2 linked regions of the Homo sapiens genome follow. Each later gene encodes a partner of the first gene's protein in a complex. Each region holds a gene or a part of one and is shown in the gene's direction. Other genes may lie near its edges. The genes, in order: GOLGA4 and ARL1.

Region 1 (7,292 bases):
AATCGCTTGAACTCAGTAGTTCAAGACCAGCCTGGCCAAGATGGCAAAATCCCATTTCTGGCCTGGCACCGTGGCTCATGCCTGTAATCCCAGCACTTTGGGAGGCCAAGGCGGGCGGATCACCTGAGGTCTACTAAAAATACAAAAATTAGTGGGGCGTGGTGGCGCACACCTGTAATCCTGGCTACTCCAGAGGCTGAGGCAGGAGAATTGCTTGACCCTGGGAGGCAGAGGTTGCAATGAACTGAGATCGTGCCACTGCACTCCAGCCTGGGAGACAGAGCGAGACTCCGTCTCAAAAAAAAAAAAAAAAATATGTTTTAACAACAAATACCTATTTTGGATTTTTAAACTCCTTAAAGAACTAAGTCAATAAAAGAAACATCAAGAAGTAATACAGACATTGTAATTTCTTGGGATATATGTAGTACATGAATACAAATATTTTAAAACATTTTTAGCCTTTTCAAGTACTTCTAAAACTTAAAAATTATAGAAGTATAGATACAAAAGGATGAATACATGACTCCACTTAATTGAGGTACCTAGAGTAGTCAAATTCTTAGAGACAAAATAGAATGGTTGTTGCCAAAGGCTGGAGAGAGGAGAGAATGGGGAGTTACTGTGTAGTGGGTACAGAGTTTTAGTTTGGAAAGATGAAAACGTACTGGTGATGGATGGTGGTGATTCCACAACAGTGTGAATGTAGTTCATGCCACTGAATTGTACAGCTACAAATGTTTAAAATGGTAAATTTTATGTTATGTATATTTTTAAAAAATCAACATATACGCCCCTCCTTATGCCTGCAGAATCATCCCTTATTTTTTTCCCTCAGCTCAGAGATGGCAGCTGACCTCACTCTTTTAGAGTGAGACCCCAAAATAATAGTTTATGTGATATAAATTTAAAAAATAAAAACAAAAAAACCAGCAAACAGTTCCACAGATAACAGGGAAAAGAGTCCTTTCTGAAGGGACATAGCCTTATTGTAAATCCAAGTTTACTAAATAGTTTCAGTCTTGAAATTGGGGAAAGCATGAGTCCCAGAGAAAACATTTAGATCAGAAGGTAGTTTATTAAGAACATGATGAAAGGCTTTAATAAGTTTGGTACCTAAAATATAAAGGTTTATTTGAAGAATTAACCCCAAGTTACTTTGACTGCTCTTTTAGAACTGGGATGTCAAATTGATTTGGCAGTGACTTACAACAGTGCTGTGATGAGGATTCAATGGCTGTGTCTCTGCTGTGACTAATCCATAGGTGTTGTAGGGAGAGTGAAATGAACCAGATGTTAGTTATGAACAGTGAATGCCTAGGTCCTCTGCTGGATGTTGCATTTGCTTTGAAGGGTCTATGTAGTCCCTACACAATGGAGTTGAGAGACAAGTACTTTCAGTGTAATAGTGATATATACAGGGTGTTGTAGTTGTGCAAAATAAGGCATTTCTGGAGAAGATCAGGGTGACATCTGAGTAGAGCCTTGATGGATAATGAAAAGTCATGGTATAGGGACAAGGGATTCAAGGCTTATTCCTAAGGATGACTGGATTAGTTTTCTAATATTGCATAACAAGTTACCACAACCTTAGTGCCTAATAACCCAGTTATTATTTTATAGTTCTGTAGGTCAGAAGTCTGGCATGGCATGACTGGGTTCTCTGCTCAGGGTCTTGCAAGGCTAAAATCAATATGTTGTCCAAGCTGCTTTCTCATCTGGAGCTCAGGATCTTTTTGTATGCCCATGTGGTTGTGGTAGAATTCAGTCCTTTCTGGTTATAGGACTGGGGCCTTCATTTCTTGCTGACCACTTTCGGCTTAGAGGCTACCAGCAGCTCCTTGCCACGTGCCCCTGTAGGCATTTTGCTTTCTTTCAGGACAGCAGAAGTACGTCCCTCTGCCCTCTAGACCCATATTTGAAGGGCTTATGTAATTAGTTTAGACCCATCCAGGTAATCTTTTGATGAACTCATGGTCAACTGATTAGTAACCTAGTAACCTTAAATATGCCTTTAAAATCCCTTTGCCCTGTAATATAACAATTATGAGAGTGATAGCTCATTATATTCACAGGGCAGGGGTCATTTGGGGTCATCTTACAGTTTTGCTTATCACAATGACTAAAATGGTTTTTCTTAAGTTTTTGTAGAGTCAGGGTCTTACTGTGTTACTCAGGCAGTCTTGAACTCCTGGCCTCAAGTGATCGTCTTGCCTTGGCCTCTCAAAGTGTTGGGATTACAGGCATGAGCCACTGTGCACAGCTAAAATGGTTTTTCTTACACTGAAATTGAGTATAACTGTGGTCAGTTAATAATTAGGCAGTGGGCAATAAAATATTAATTGTGGGTCTGGATGTAGCTGTCAGGTTTTTTGGTTAACAGCTTAGAAAGCTGACTCAGATTTCTTATGGCTATTGCAATTAATCAGCTCAAGTTTGGTTTGAAGGAACCTAAATCCCTTTATATCTTGAAGTGAGGATAGCCCATTAAGGAACCAGGCACCTGGGACAAATGCTGAAGTACAGTTAGTTCTTTATGCACTGTTATATACTTTATACTCACATCCATTTTCTCATATAATTCTTACTCTTGTAACTCCAGAGGAAGATCCAGAGGAAGATCAACAAGTCATCAGGCCACGTTTTGCCAGATAGTACTACTTTTCTAGGGAGAGTATGTTTTAGAATCTGTTAAACTTTGTAAACCCCGTTATTTGATTTTTTTGTCAGTTTCTCCAGAGCTGATGAGGCTCTCAGTTACTGATTAGACCATATGAGGCCAAGGTGTAAGACGTAATGCCAATTTTTCAGATTTGCAGTGAGGTATACTTTTTAAGCAGTTGGAAGGTCACTGTCTAAGGTAGCCCTTTCCTGGCATCTGGATATTTGGAAAGCTGAATTAATAACCCAGAGATTTCTTAGACATGATAGAATCACAACAGAGAGAGTTGATTAGTCAAGAGGTATTTCCTGTGGTCTAGTAGTACTTTTCTAACTTTTTACCACCCAGTGACCATTTTATTAAAGGAGTTCTTAGATATAATCATTTATAAATACATAGATACAAAAGGCTGCCCCCATAGTGGCAGCCTTTGAGGCACCTACAGCCTTTGAAGCTGGCACTGGCATGGTTTGCAAATTATGGCTCTAGGTGTGGGAAGGGTTTATTGAATTTATCTCAACTTTAATGAAAGCTATTTCTGATGTTCTTTGAACATTTGTAATTTGAACGTGGTGTTCAAGGTAGGCTCAAACTTATTCCAAGACTGAGACTAATACTACACAGTGACTGTGCTTTCCCTTGCCATTTTCTAAGTACAATGTTGACTTTTAGTCACATATTTTCTAGACATTTAAACCATTGCTAAGGCTTCAACTTTATTTCACATTGATTGATTTTCTTGTTTATATGCTTTTTTTTTTGAGACGGAGTCTTGCTCTGTCACCCAGGCTGGAGTGTAGTGGTGCAATCTTGGCTCACTGCAACCTCTGCAGTTGAAGCAATTCTCCTGCCTCAGCCTCCTGAGTACCTGGGATTACAGGCGCACAACACTACTCTTGTTCATGTTTTTAAGTCCTTATTCTTCCTGTTTTGTCTTTGGTGGGAGAGGATATGTCATCCCTTAAGGTGACTTCTGCACATAGCTAATTTCATCTGTTGTATTGATTTTTCTGGTTCATCTTTTAGAAGGTGTTGGAGTTCTTGGTTGTAAGCAACAAAAAGTCAATCTAGGTAAGCAGAAAAATAATTTATTGAAGACTCTTTACCCTACAGAATTTCCCTGAGGTCCCAAAAGTCTGAGCTGATTGCTACGTCCAGTTATACTGGGGAGACTACTCTGTGTTGCAGCTGCTTCAGCTTGGCACCAGCATTGCATCTGTCACTTCACAGCTTATATTTGTGTGGATGCATGAAGTTCTGTCTCCATTGTCATCAGATGATGAACTTTATTTGTATGTCTGTTTTTTCACATCACTCACTTATGACTCGAAGTCTCATGTGTTTCATTGATGGAGCTCAGGTTACCCTGTCTCAGATAAAAAGAAGATTGGGTTAGTAAGTTTTCTGAGTTCTAACTTACGGACTTATAAGAGCTGTTTATAGAAAAAAGGTTATTAAACTTTTGTCATATTTGTAGATGCTTTTCCTCACCTCCCAATTAAACTGCTGCTTTGATTTGTTTTTCACATAAAAATCTCTTTCCCATTCAGAGATTGTAGAAATAGACTCTTGAATTTTTTGTATTTCAATAAAAAAAATTAAATCTTTAATATAGCTTAAGTATGAAGGATCTGATTTGTGTGTCTTGCCCCATATGGATGGCCAGTTGTCCCAACATTTATTGAATGTCTATCCTGATGCAAAATGTTACTTTTATCATAAGCTAAATATGTATATGTCTGTCTGGATGTATATATGTGTATATAGAGTATGTGTATATTTGTATACTATTCCTCACGACCTCTCAGTTCCACCCTAACCACAGCAGTTTGTGCACGGATACCACAGACCAGAGTTCCATTTGTTTATTCATTCATTCATTTATTTGACAAATATTTATTAACTGCCTTTTGTAAAGTGCAGACTACAAAAAGAGGTAAGATATCATGACTCATTCATTTCTCAAAATAGATCTGAGTTCAGATCTATTTTGCTGTGGGTGTAGGGGGATTTCAAAATTTTGGTTTTATACTTTTAGGGTTGTTTTTAGCTCACCTTAGAGTAGACCCCAGACCTCTAGTTTAAATTTTGAGCCCTTTCTCCTGAGTTTTTTTGCGCTGAGGGTTATAGGAGTCAGGCTGTCAATTACAGAGCTAAATGGAATAGCATCTCAGTATTTAGCAGTGGTATTCAAGGTAGGCTCAAAGCAAGGCCATTAATTAGGTGGGCAAGTGCTGTTTATCTGTGCATTTCATACTATTGAATGTTAGAGCTAGAAGGTAGAAGGGATCTTAAAGATTGAATTGCCAGCCTTTTTTTTTTAAATGAACTTCTAATTTTGGAATAATTTTGGTTTATAGAAAAGTTCTAAAGATAGTGCAGAGAGTTTTTATATACCCCTCACCTGGCTTCAGTTTTCTCTAATATTATCATCTTACACTAGTATCGCAACTTTATTTTATATATGGAGACACATAGTCCTCAAAAAGTTCATGTAGCTAAGATCATAGTTCTAGTTGGTGGCAGAGTTAGGCCAGGGACCTAGTAGGTAGCCTGGGTTTTCTAGTTGATTATATTTGTTATCCTTTTCTGCTTTTCGTGTTTTTGCTCTTTTCCTTTCTTTCACTGAATTCTTTGGGCATGGACTGAGAGAAGGACTACCTAGTTCATAGTTCACTAGTCAATATAGTCTTGCTAATTTGTGCAATAATTTTTAAATCTAGGCGTCCTCCAATTCTTCAACACCAACAAGAATGAGGAGCAGGACATCTTCATTTACAGAGCAACTTGATGAAGGTACACCCAATAGAGAGGTAAGTTTGGAATTCCTTTTCTAGTATACCTCTCAAAAGAAACTAATCTAAAATGTATGCTGTTGATAACAAAATGGGAAACTTTTGACAGGTCAGCTATTTAATTCCTAGGTAGAGTTTTTATTAGTAACACAATTGGTCTTTTTTTTTTTTTTTTCACAAATAGCAGTTATGATTTATGTCTGTCTGTCTGTCTGTATGTATGTATGTATGTTTTTGAGACAGGGTCTGGTTCTGTCACCCAGGCTAGAGTGTGGTGGCACGATCACTGCACATTGCAGCCTTGACCTTCTGGATTCAAGTGATCCTCTAACTTCAGCCTCCTGAGTAGCTGGGACTATAGGCGCACGCCACCTGCCTGGCTAACGTTTAAATTTTTCGTAGACGGGGTCCCACTATGTTGCTCAGGCTGGTCTTGAACTCCTGGGCTCAAGTGATTCTCCCAATTATGCTTTATAAAGTATGGTTGTTGAGAACCTTAATTTGAGAGGATAATATGTTCTGGATTTAATAGTTGAAGTTTTCAGAATAATTTGATAAATTTGTTCAACATAGCATCATTTTTTCAAGCTGGTGAGTGGAAACTGAGAAGTAACTTATTTAACTTATTCCATGTAACCAGCAGCTGGCATTAAAACTCATTATTTCCCACTTTTTTTCTGTGAAGTGTAACACACATACAAAAAGAAGGTAAAACATAAATGCACGGGTCAGCAAATTATCATGAAGTGAATCCTCCCAGGTCAAGCAAAGGAACACTGTTAGCACTGTCGTGCTCCCTTTCCCCCTGAAGGATTACCACCATCCTGAATTTTTGGTATTTGCTTGCTTCCTTTTTTTTTTTTTTTTTAATAGTTTTACCTCTTAAATATGCTTTCTAAATGTAAACATTGTAGTTAAACATTTGGGTTGTCTACAGGTTTTGGCTACTATGAATTATGTTGCCATCAACATTATTGTACTTTTTTTTGGTGTACATGTACCTGCATTTCTGTTGGTATGTACTTTGGAGTAGAATCACTGCTCCATTTTAACACATAAGAAGATAATGCTGATGGTTTTCCAGAGTGGTTGTAGAAATTTAAATTCTCACCAGGAGCTTATGAAAGTTGCTTTTGCCCTATATTTTTGAGAGTCTTTATTTTTCTACTCTGTGTAAATATGCTGGAAAACAGTCTTTTTCATTTCAGCTGTTCTGGTGGTGGTCTTTCATTTTGGTTTTAATTTACATTCTCTGATAACTAACGAGATTGAGCATTTACATCTGTTTATTGCCCATTTGATGTCTTTTGTGAGTGCTTAAGTCCCTTGCCCATTTTCTATTGGATTATCTTTTTTTAAAACTGATTTGTAGGAGTTTTTTAAAAAATATAGAATACTAAGGAGTTTTTTGTTGAATATATATCTTGCAGCTATCTTCCACTCAGTGGCTTGCCATTCATTTTAATGATGTCCTTTGATGAACAGAAGTTCTTAGTTTTAGGCCAAGTATGGTGGCTCATGCCTGTAATCCCAGCGCTTTGGAAGGCCAAGGCAGGAGGATTGCTTGAGTCCAGGAGTTTGAGACCAGCCTGGGCAACAGAGTGAGACCCTGTTTCTGCAAAAATAAAATAAAATAAAATTAGCTAGGTATGGTGGCATGCACCTGTGTGGTCCCAGCTACTCAGGAGGCTAAGGCAGGGGCATTACTTGAGCCTCGGAGGTCGAAGCTGCAGTGAACCATGATTGCACCAGCCTAGGTGACACAGTAAGACCCTGTCTTTCAAAAAAAAAAAAAAGCCTGGTTCCCATCCATTTCCCATCCCTGACAGTACCTT
Region 2 (5,449 bases), on another chromosome or scaffold:
TTGTTTTTAAAGAGACAGGGTCAGCAGGGCGCGGTGGCTTATGCCTGTAATCCCAGCACTTTGGGAGGCCGAGGCGGGTGGATCATGAGGTCAGGAGTTCGAGACCAGTCTGAGTGACCAACATGGTGAAACCTCATCTCTACTAAAAATACAAAAATTAGCTGGGCGTGGCAGCGGGCACCTGTAGTCCCAGCTACTCAGGAGGCTGAGGCAGGAGAATCACTTGAACCCAGGATGCAGAGGCTGCAGTGAGCCAAGATTGCACGACTGCAACTTCAGCCTGAGCAACAGAGCGAGACACTGTCTTAAAAAAAGAAAAAAAAAAAAGAGACAGGGTCTCCCTCTGTCCCCTAGGCTGGAGTGCAGTGGCACAACCAAAGCTTGTTATAACCTTGAGCTCCTCTCTCTGCTTCCTTTTTTGTTTGTTTTTTAAAAAAATTTTTGTAGAGACCCCTGTGTTGCTCAGGCTGGTCTCCAACTCCTGGACTTAAGCGATCCTCCTGCCTCAGCCCATGTGCATTTCGAATACCCTAGTAATATATAATGAGATGCTATGTTTGGAAAAGTAAATAATTCCCAACTCTACAAAGGCTGCATTGAAGATGGAGACTTTTATACACTGTTGGTAGGGTAACCTTTCTGGAAAGCTGTTCATGCATGTATTCAGTTTATCAAAGCCTGAAAAAAACTGTTCATACTTTGACTCCATTTTTAGAATATTGTGTTAAGGAAACAGATTTAAACAGAAATTTTTGTATAAAGACCCTGTCACTTGGGTTTATCTAATAGTCTAGTGGAAAGACTCTAATAAGAGTCAGATACTAGAAAATAGTTAACACAGTTTATGGTGCATGCATCCATAGTGTAGAGCATATTTAGCCATTTTTTTATTTTGAAAAAGTTGTTGTAGTTTGGAGAAACATGATTTTAATTTTTAGGCAGGGTATGGAACTATATATAAATGTGATCTTAAATGTGTAAATGTATTTACTAAATAAACTCTGAAGTATCTGCAAAACAAAGTACTAGTAGAAAACACCTAAAATGTTAACAGTGATCATATTTGGGAGGTAGGATTATGAGTGAAGCTTCTTTTCTTTATACTTCTCTATATAATTTCTATATAATTTCATAATGTGTAATATATTAATTATAAAATACACGTTTAAAATGTATTTTTGGACATTTTCTAAACTCGAGAGAGCACATTAGTTAAAAGAAATTAAATATTTTCAATTTCATTTAGGAAGAAGAGCTGAGAAAAGCCATTTTAGTGGTGTTTGCAAATAAACAGGACATGGAACAGGCCATGACTTCCTCAGAGATGGCAAATTCACTTGGGTTACCTGCCTTGAAGGACCGAAAATGGCAGATATTCAAAACGTCAGCAACCAAAGGCACCGGCCTTGATGAGGCAATGGAATGGCAAGTATCATGCTTCCAGAAGCCATCTGTGCATTTGTGTGTGCTTGCAGCTATGCACGTCCACGTGTAATTTTTCTCCCGTGTTGAGGATGAAACTTTGATTTACTTAGCAGCTTATTTCATAAGTTCCTCAAGCGTTTTCTCTCACTGGTCTTCAGGTGCATCTGTCTTCTCAACCACACCTACCTGATTACAGTTACTTAGATAAGCAAATTCTTTGCCAATTTTTAGCCTTTTCCCTGCCTCACCTCACCCTCCAATTCCTTATCCTTCAGGAATTAGCTTAAGACTCTCTTCTGAAGAGCTTTTCCTAATGTATCTCTATTCCTACTGCCTAATCACTCACTTAAAGTTAGATGCCCTTGTCACAGATTAGTGACATAGTACTTGTTTTGCTGTCTTGTAAGTTTGATTTGTTCATCTACTCATTAGATAATCACCTCCTTGAGGATTGAGACTAGTTTCACCTCTGAGTCATCCATATGTAGCCCAGAAGTAGTAGTAGCCTGGAAAATAGGTATTTGGTCTTTTTTGAATTTTTCATTCAAATCATAGACAAATTCAAAGCTTAGAGGAACCTTATGGATATCTAGTGCATAACCTCATCTGTGTTAGCTGTCATCATTTTAAGTACTTTGGAATCCACCTCCAATACAAAGTTTATTATAGATGATCATGCTTTATACCTGAAAATTAATTTTATAAAACAGTTCATTTTCTCTTTACAGGTTAGTTGAAACATTAAAAAGCAGACAGTAATTCAGTCCATTCTTCTCCCCTGAAATGAAGACTACATCACCTCTCTCCCTTTGGAAACAGTCAAGTGTACTTCACACTACTAGATGTTAAAACTATATGATTATTGGCATATACTGACTGACTGCAATATTTGTAGTAAATAGGGAAAATAAGTATTTAGTTGGAGGGATAATTTGATCGAATCACCTGAATGTTCTATGTAATGTAAAATATTCTTTTCTTGCTTTCTTGTGTTAAGGTATATATTCTATTTGTATGGAATTCTTATTCAAATACAGTTCTATTAAAGAGTATACTCCTATTGGATGAAAAAAACCTATTTTTGAATAGTAGTTGCAGCTTGTTTGTATAAATACTAAAAAATATCTTAACAGATTTTTTTCCCCTTAAAATGAATTATCTTTCCAAAGATTAGACTCAGTATGAGAGTAGGTGAGGAACATAGTTTGTGTAATATAATCTTTATTTGCTTACCTGACCACTTTTTATTAAGCTGTTTTGTTTAAAAGCTTTTGGTTATAGGCATGAATATTGTTTTGATGGTTAACTTCACTGACTTATCTGTAAGTGTCATTTTATAGTACTTTACAGTTGTCAAAAAAAATCTTACATATATTGATCTAGTTGATCGGTAGAGGAAGCTTGTGAAGTAGGTAGGACAGGTTATGATGTCTTCACTGTATGGACGTGAACCCAGGGTTCTAATAGGTTGGCTTGCCCAAGGTCACCTGCTAGCTTGTAAGGTAGGAATAGGGCTCAAAGTAAAACTTTTGGTTCAGAAGCTTGACTCATAAACTATACTATATATTCCCAAAAATGTCAGTATTGACAACACAGTCTAACTCTTAAATAAAATTATGCTAATTAGTTACATTCAAAATAATGTTTATAAATTTATTTGTCTATACTAGTAGAAGTGATCAGTGACATACTATAAATAATCCTAAATGGTTATATTTGATAGAATTCATAACACATTAAAGAGAAAATTTCACATTAAAGGAAGGTTTAAAAATCTATTTTCAGATTATAAAAGGTGTCTTTACTGGTTTTCATTCCTTTTATCTACATGTAATTGGACATGTAAACTTGTTAAAAATCAAAATCTTACTGATTGTACAGGGAGAAATTAAGCATTCTGTTTTAAAAATTAGGCTTATTGCTAGACTGTAAGTTTAAAAACAATTCATGTTCAAAGGAGCTTTTCAAATTACCCAGTCCACCACAGAATCAGCTAATGTGACAGAAGTAAATATAGTGCGTCATAATTGCTAAAAACAGGGTGAATTTCTTTCACTTAAGTTGGAAAACCAGCCTCTAAAAAATTAGGTGCTGGTAATGAGAGCTTAATACCATGGTTCCCTGCAGGTCTCAGAAACATTAGTAGTTCCTTTCTTGGCCCTCACTGTCCTTCCAGTGTTGGCCTCTGGCCTCTTCCCCTCACATTTATGTTCATTCTCCGGGCTTATATTCATTCTCTGCTGCTTTCTCCCTTCACCCGTGGGACTCTCACCCTTCTTGCTCATTCTCCAGCACCCATTCCTACTTTAGTCTCTTTGAAATCTTTTTTGGAGATTTTCCTTCAGCTACAAATGTTCCAGTACAACCAATATTACTCCTGAGGGGCAAAGACTTTTTCATATTTATGTCCCTAGTATCTGGTATGGCGCCTGGCATATGGCATTTCAGAATATGTTCATAGTTGAAACAGTAGGATAGATATTTGTCATCTTGACAAGTAGCCCTTTGCAATTTATACTTGAGTTCACTCCTGGTCAATGGCACATGGCTGGAAAATGCAGAAAGCAAGTTCACTTACAGCCTGAGGCTTATAAAGCTTGTACAGCTGCCTCCCGGCAGTCCAGGAAAACTGCAAAAAATGGGAAGTAAGGTCCTGGCAGGCAGACCCGGCATGTAGCCGCTGGCCATCTTGAATCCTAGGGCATGAAGTTGCCCCAAAGTTCAGCACTTGGTTAAGCCTGATCCCTCTGGTTTATCACAAAGAATAGGATGGGATAAAGAAAGTGGACACTTAAATAAGCTATAAATTATATGGTCCTTGTCTAGCAGGAGACAACTGCACAGGTATACTACCAGCGTTTGGATATTGATATATACATGGCAAATCTGAATATTGTTTTATGAGAGGCCTGGCAATGGGTAAAACACCAAACTTGAAATCAGAACATAGGTGCAAATGGCCACTCCTGTAGTTTCTTTTCTGTAAAATGGGATCTGGACGAATGATACCAAACGTTTCTTTCTAACATTGTATTTTATAACTCTGGCCTATGATTGTGTTGTGTCTTGCATTAAAAAAAAAAATTTGAGAGTGGTAGAATTACTTCTGTTATCTGAAATACCTGAGATGCACTTTAAACTGTTGAAATGTAAGCTCTGAGGGCAGGGACCGTATCTTATTTACTGTTAGTATCCGTTGCATCTAGTGTGGTGCACCTGGCACACAGTAGGCACTCAATAAATATGTATTGATTAAAAACAAAGACGTCTTCAATATGCCAGATATATTTGTCCTTTCTGATCTTTGCCTTAGTATTTTATTTTTAAAAATTTTATGAAAGCAATACATGCACTTAAGTCACTTAGAATTAATTAAAATCAGTCTTCTAAGATGGCCTCCTTTTGATAAATTACAAAGCCCTTAGAAGCGTGAGAATTCCCGTTTGAGATACACACTACATCAAAGCACAGATGCTGAAGTGAATGAACATTTGATTTCTGTGCCACATACTGTCATATTCTAAGCCCGTAATTACAAATTATAAAGCATGGACTTTTGTTTTTTTTTTTTTTTTTTTTTTTTGAGATGGAGTCTCACTGTCACCCAGGCTGGAGTGCATTGGCACGATCTCGGCTCACTGTAACCTCTGCCTCCCAGGCGCAAGCGATTCTCCTGGCTCAGCCTCCTGAGTAGCTGGGACTACAGGTGCCGTGCCACCACGCCCGGCTAATTTTTGTATTTTTAGTAGAGACAGGGTTTCATCATGTTGGCCAGGCTGGTCTCGAACTCCTGACCTCAAGTGATCCACCTGCCTTGGCCTCCCAAAGTGCTGGGATTACAGGTGTGAGCCACCACGCTCAGCTCAAAGCATGGACTTTGAATCTTGATTGTAGCACCTACATCCTGTATCACCCTTAGGCAAGTTATTTACTCTGAGTCTCAGTTTCTTCATCTGTAAAATAGGAACCAATTGTAGAAATCTCTCAGGAGTACTAGGATTAAACAAAATGTATCCAAAGTGCC

The links.
Region 2: the proteins of GOLGA4 (region 1) and ARL1 are in contact, whole or in part, in a crystal structure (PDB 1UPT), measured with the Homo sapiens proteins. Residues at the interface, in NP_002069.2 of Homo sapiens: Thr2173, Glu2174, Glu2176, Tyr2177, Lys2180, Val2181, Glu2184, Glu2190, Thr2193, Lys2196, Val2197, Thr2200, Val2201; in NP_001168.1 of Homo sapiens: Ile49, Gly50, Phe51, Gln64, Trp66, Ser73, Ile74, Pro76, Tyr77, Cys80, Tyr81, Ser83, Glu115 (codon at 1,253).

What each region holds. Positions count from the first base shown.
Region 1 is NC_000003.12:37,246,010-37,253,301, forward strand, and holds part of GOLGA4 (golgin subfamily A member 4), read left to right. Parts: intron 1-3,688; exon of another isoform or gene 3,689-3,733; intron 3,734-5,385; coding exon 5,386-5,475; intron 5,476-7,292. UniProt on the Homo sapiens protein: Involved in vesicular trafficking at the Golgi apparatus level. May play a role in delivery of transport vesicles containing GPI-linked proteins from the trans-Golgi network through its interaction with MACF1. Involved in endosome-to-Golgi trafficking.
Region 2 is NC_000012.12:101,392,375-101,397,823, reverse strand, and holds the end of ARL1 (ADP-ribosylation factor-like protein 1), read left to right. Parts: intron 1-1,246; coding exon 1,247-1,425; intron 1,426-2,153; coding exon 2,154-2,184; 3' UTR 2,185-4,708; downstream 4,709-5,449. UniProt on the Homo sapiens protein: GTP-binding protein that recruits several effectors, such as golgins, arfaptins and Arf-GEFs to the trans-Golgi network, and modulates their functions at the Golgi complex.